2 separate regions of the Homo sapiens genome follow, and region 2 is reported to be linked to region 1. The links are microRNA targets in miRTarBase. Many come from high-throughput screens and were not tested one by one. Region 1 holds a microRNA gene; the other region holds the end of a gene's coding sequence.
The links. Region 1 holds the annotated microRNA hsa-miR-4531 (AUGGAGAAGGCUUCUGA, at 950-966, shown strand). A microRNA usually pairs through its seed, bases 2 to 8, with sites in the 3' UTR of a target mRNA and lowers its output. Matches are read on the target gene's strand: a 7mer-m8 pairs with bases 2 to 8, a 7mer-A1 pairs with bases 2 to 7 and ends in A, and an 8mer does both.

Region 1 (3,000 bases):
TTTGGAGCCGAGCGCTGATTCAAGGGCCGCTTCTGCCCTCTCGTGGCTGGTCTTTAACCTGGGCAGGGCAACAGCTGCTGACTGTGCACAGCATGGGGTCACATGGGATTCGGGGGAAGTACCGGGCACAGAGCAGGCACACCCCAAAAAGCAGGTGCATCCACCAGCCAGGATTCAACCACCTGCTAAACGCCTCAACCGCAAAACAGAGATGTCAAAACAGAGATGCCCCCCACTGGGGGCCCGAAGTCAACCTCCTCTTTTTCTCTTTTCTGAATCTCCCTCCTCTCTTAGACCAGGAGTCCAGGCCCCAGTCTGTCCTGCCTCAGACCCAGGGGTCCAGGCTCCCAGCTTCTCCTCCCTCAGACCCAGGGGTCCAGACCCCCCAGCCCCTCCTCCCTCAGACCCAGGGGTCCAGGCCCAGCCCCTCCTCTCTCAGTCCCAGGGGTCCAGACCCCCAGCCCCTCTTCCCTCAGACCCAGGAGTCCGGGCTCCCAGCCTCTCGTCCCTCAGACCCAGGGGTCCGGGCCCCCAGCCCCTTCTCCCTCAGTCCCAGGAGTCCAGGCCCCCAGCCCCTCCTCCCTCAGTGCTAGAAATCCAGACCCCCAGCCCCTCCTCCCTGAGACCCAGGACTCACGTGCTCCAATTATAGCCTGTGGGCTCTGGGTTGCTGCGAGCATCGCAGGTCAGGGTGGCCTCATTCTGGCCAAGGTACCAGTTGTTATCATAGCCAGAGATGGATACCTCTGGGGGGTCTGCAGGAAATGGATACAGAGGTTCAGAGACTGGGAGGCTTTGGGGGGCCTGGGGCTACGCGGGATTCACGACACTGCAGGAAAAGGCCCGGGGATATTTGGAAAACAGCGGGAGCTGGAGAGGCCTAGGAGGAGTCTAGGTAGATGGGGTGCCACAGAGAGCAGAAGCCTAGGAGTCCTTGGTCAGTGGGGACATGGAGAAGGCTTCTGAGGAGCTGCTTTTCTCCACTAGCTTTCCTGGGTAGCCTGGACCAGGCATGTCTTGGGTGTCCTGCAGGAAAATGCCTCCTCCTTTTCTCACTCATAGGCAATGACCACTCACAACACACAGCAGTGTATTCAAGGTTCTGACAAGTCCTGCAGGAAAGAGTCCCAGATAACCCTGCTCTAGGCTGCTGCTCAGCCATCCCATACGTGATTGACAGCGAAGACCTTTCAATGTCCTTGGGGGCAGGCCAATGGGACAGGGTTTTATTCGGGGGCGAGGGGTAGGAGTCAGTGTAGATCTCCTCCTCGCTCAGACCCAGTGACAGTGTTGAGGGACTCCAGTATAGACAGTACCTGAGGGAATCTGTGTACCAATTGCCTGGCGGGGAGTAAGCAGTATAGACAATGGTGGGAGGAACAGTATGAATGATGTCTAGAAGAGCTTGTGTGGATATTACTGATGGGTTCAGTGTAGACAGGGTGTTGGAATATTACAGCAGATGCTATATTGTCGGGCCAGTGTTGAAAATGTGGTGGTGGGGGTGAGATCACCCCCACATATACAGTGTGTCCCCGGGAGCTGACGAAATTAAGACAGGCTCTGTGTATGTGTGTAGACAGTATTTGGATGAGCCAGTGTAGATGATGTGGGAGCTTAGTCTAGATCTGTGCTGTCCAATATGGCACCTACTGGCCACATGTGACTACTGAGCACTCGAAATATAGCCAGGCCGAAATACACACCAGATTTCAAAGGCTTTACTAGGACAAAATAAATGGGAAAGATCTCAAGAATAATTTTAAAAAAACAATTACAAGTTGAAATAATATTTTAGGTATATTGGGTTAAGTAAAGGCAATTATTAAAAATTAATTTTGGCCAGGCACAGTGGCTCATGCCTGTAATCCCAGTACCTTGGGAGGTTGAGGCAGGAGGATCACTTGAGCCCAGGAGTTTGAGACCAGCCTGGGCAACATAGGGAGATCCTGTCTCCAGAAAAAATAAAAATAGGCCGGGTGCGGTGGCTCACGTCTGTAATCCCAGCAATTTGGGAGGCCAAGGTGGGTGGATCACGAGGTCAGGAGTTTGAGACCAGCCTGGCCAACATGGTGAAATCCCGTCTCTACCACAAATACAAAAATTAGCTGGGCACTGTGGCCAGGGCTTGTAATCCCAGCTACTCGGGAGGCTGAGGCAGGAGAATCACTTGAACCCGAGAGGCGGAGGCTGCAGTGAGTTGAGATCGTGCCACTGCACTCTAGCCTGGGTGACAGAGCAAGACTTCATCACAAAACAAAAAAACAAAAACAAAAACAAAAACAAAAATTAGCTAGGCATGGTGTCACACGCCTGTAGTCCCAGCTACTCAGGAGACTGAGGCTGAGGTGGGAGGATCACTTAAGCCCAGGAGGTTGAGGCTGCAGGGAGCTGTGCCACTGCACTCCAGTCTGGGTGACAGAGTAAGACCCCGTCTCAAATAAATAAATAGATAAATAAATAAACAAATAAATTTCATCTCTTTCTTTTCTTGTTTTTGAGATGGAGTTTTGCTCTGCTGCCCAGGCTGGAGTGCAATGGCGTAATCTCGCTCATTGCAATCTCCGCCTCCCAGGTTCAAGTGATTCTCCTGCCTCAGTCTCCCGAGTAGCTGGGATTACAGGCACCCGCCACCGTGCCTGGCTAATTTTTGTATTTTTTAGTGAAGACAGAGTTTCACCACATTGATCAGGCTGGTCTTGAATGCCTGACCTCAGGTGATCCACCTGCCTCGGCCTCCCAAAGTGCTGGGATTACAGGCGTGAGCCACCGTGCCTGGCCTCTTTCTTTTAATTTTTTAATGGGGTGGCCGCTGGAGAATTTAAAATCCTATATGCAGCTTGCATGCTATTTCTGTTAGACAGCACTGGTTAGAGAGTCCTGGGGCTGTCAGTGGAGATAAATGTGTGGGTGTCAATGTCGATGATGCCATGAGGGAGCTGGTGGAGGTAACGCTGTGCAGGAGAATCAGGACAGATGCTGTCAGGGGGCTGTGCAGAC
Region 2 (3,000 bases), not on the chromosome of region 1:
CCTAGTTTACTTCTGGCATACATGCACACTAGGTCTGACGTTAGCCACGGAGCAAGTGAAATTCAGACTGGTAACAGGGATTATTTCTGGGCCTCCCGCTTTTAAAGTTCCCCTTTCTCTTGTTTCCCTCATTTCTCACCTCCTACAAATGGTGCAGGGAACAGGGAGCCCGAGATTTTATTTGCTACGCCTTCATGCAAAGCAATTTGATTTGTTTGTTTAGTTTTGTTTTGTTTCTCTCTAAAGGGTAAAGATGCTCCCAATTTGTGGCAGGACTGTGTTTCTTTATGCCCTAACAATCATGAGACAGCCTGGGAGACTGAAATTCTCTCACCCTGTCCCCTACCCCCGCTAGGGAAAAAAATGCTAGACAGAGCTGGGTTTGTTCAGGAGCTGGGGCGGAGCAATGCCTGGAGAGAATTCCCCTTTTCTGGGGCTGTTTGATGTCTGAATTTTGAAGATTTACATCAAAAGCGAGAAAAGCAGTGTTATGGCAAGTTGGGTTAAGACTCTTGCTCCGCTTTTAAGCAAATGCTTCAAAACAAACAAATCCTGATTGAGGTGGCTGGACCTGGACCACCTCCTTTATAACTACTACATGGCCTGCCTGGACCTGGGACATCTTCTTTTAGATTTAGGATGGGCTAAGAGTGAAACAAACTTCCAAGTTTCTCTTATTTTCCTCAGAACAACAAGGAAGGCACAGGACCAAATTATTCATTCAGCATCCTGACAAATAATCAGCGGAGATAAAAATTGTAGCCTATCACTGCAGATAAAACTTCTCTAAAAAAAACCAAACAAACAAAATAAAAGAACTAAGACATTTCTTCAAAGAGACGGACAAAATTATTTTTCAAAAATCAAATGACAGTGAATCGTAGTGGGGAACCTTGCAAATCAGCAAAGTGAAGCTGGTAAATCTCACTTCCTATTCCCTCTTAGTGAATGTTTATATTAGCAGCGCTAAGAAGAGCTTGGTTGTGTGTTTTACCGGCATGGAAATCAGACGGCTGAAGGTTGTCACTCATGTACTCCTGTATTTTAGTCTTCCAACCTATCTCAGTCTTTAACTACCGGCAGCCAAAACAGAAAAAAACAAACAAACAAAAAACAAAAAGAGAGAGAGAGAGACTTATGTGGCAATCAGACTTTTAAATATATTGATTGGCCTAGTAGACTGGAGGAGTGTATTTCGTAAAGCCAAGAGTATGTGAATACGGAAGTAAGTTGGCCTAAACGAAAACAACGGCCACAGCAGCAAAAGCCTCCCAATGTACTGTGCTTGGGAACCTTTGAACGTGTCATAGGCAACTCTAGATATTTAGACCAGGACATGCTGGGAATGCAGCTACCGAGACAGCTGTGTGCCATGTTTGTGAGGGTGACCATGATCTGTCTTCTGTCCACTGCTTTTAGCAGGAAAACTGGCAGTGTGGCAAGGGGGTGGTTCTACTTCAGAACAGAAGTATCTAGAATTGGTGTTGCTAAGTAAAAATGACTGGGGTAAAGGCACAAGGGAGAAAAGATCAGAGCGTGAGCATCCTGCATTCAGTAATAAACAGCATTTCCCATCGGAGGGGTCTGTGTTGAAAGACTCCCAGGTAGTTATGGCTTTGAGACAGTGAGGAAATGATGTCTCCGTAGCAGATTTATTTGCCAGGCAAAAGTAGAATGTCTGCCTATTTGATGTCAATATATTAATGTGTCAGATACATTGTAAAAAATTATTACATGGTTTTTGAAAAGGGAAACATGCAAGAAGCCAGGGAAATGTAAAGGAGGTGATTTTTTTTTTTTTGAGTAGGAGCAAAAAAGAAAAGGGAGCAAAAAATCACACAGAGGGTGTGTATTTAACTAACTTTGTATTTTGCCACACATTGTTTTCATTTACAGCTATGTCTGACAAATGAGCACGTTTGACATCACTGATAAATGCAACACCGTCTAGGGCCTACGAGAAAACCAGGGGGCTCGGCTCCGCTGGAGCCTCTGCCCGTGGATTTGTTTAGGGAAGGGGAGTCGAATATCTATTTTTCTTCTTAGTAAAATTATCTGCCAGAGAAACAATGAAGCATGAAAAAGTACTATTTAGAATGTGCATGCCTATATATGATTTTAAAATGCTAATTGTTGCATTCCGGGAAACTTTCCATTATATATATGCATATATATGTATCTTTGTAATTTCAGTGAATTTTTAAAACTAGTATGGCAGGTTGAAAGCAATGCACCTGTTTACTTGCACACACCATAAATCGAAAAGCAGGAGTGCGCTTTCCTACCGGTCTCTATGAAACCCCCAGACAAGAGGCATAGTTAACTACTACATTTAATAGCCTTCTTCTCTAACACAGTAATTTTTATTTAAAAAGGAGACTAAACAGAAGTCAGGGGTAGGTGGTTCTCCATGACTGCAAATAATAATAATAATGATGATTTTTTTTAATGTACAGCTCTCACACAAATTTCATTTTGTGAACACACTGGTAAGTACACGATGCTGGGGCTTCCAAAATGTGGCGTATCCCACTGATGGCTCCAACTTGCGAGTGGGCTCAGTTCTGTAATTGGAATGAAAGGAATTTTAACACTATTTAGACAAAGATCAAACGCAGCGTAAAGGGGAAAGCTAGATTTCCTCATATGATTTTTTTTTTTTTAAATTTAGAGACTTATTGTAATGAATGGCACTTACTCAGGATTTAGGAGTTCTTTGTAAGAAAAAAAAAACATGTATTTGTTTGCTACTCCCACTATACTTCAAAGTTTTCAGTAATTGTTATTTCTAAAAATGCCTTTTACTAGGAGTTAACCTTCTCTTACAGCCAGCCACTCAAACCTCATTTTTGCCAGCACCTTTGCATTTGATTTTCTAAAGTTTGGGGGCCCAAACCTGCTTATTATATTCAACTACCTTGTAGATTCCTATCAAAATGCTTAATTCTACACAACTATATTTTCCTTCCAATCCAGGCCTCATTTGTCATGAGATAACTG

Region 2: miRTarBase lists MAF as a target of hsa-miR-4531. The part of its 3' UTR that is shown has no 7-base or 8-base seed match.

The regions. Positions count from the first base shown.
Region 1 is chr19:44,651,655-44,654,654 of GRCh38, reverse strand. It overlaps MIR4531 (microRNA 4531), which reads left to right and starts at 923; the gene lies at 923-969. It overlaps PVR (PVR cell adhesion molecule), which reads right to left. Exons shown (of 8, transcript NM_006505.5): 4 at 638-755.
Region 2 is chr16:79,591,990-79,594,989 of GRCh38, forward strand. MAF (MAF bZIP transcription factor) reads right to left here. Exons shown (of 2, transcript NM_005360.5): 2 at 1,849-2,564. The coding sequence ends at 2,471. Among named protein-coding and RNA genes, the nearest start is that of MAF, 7.2 kb to the right of the region's middle.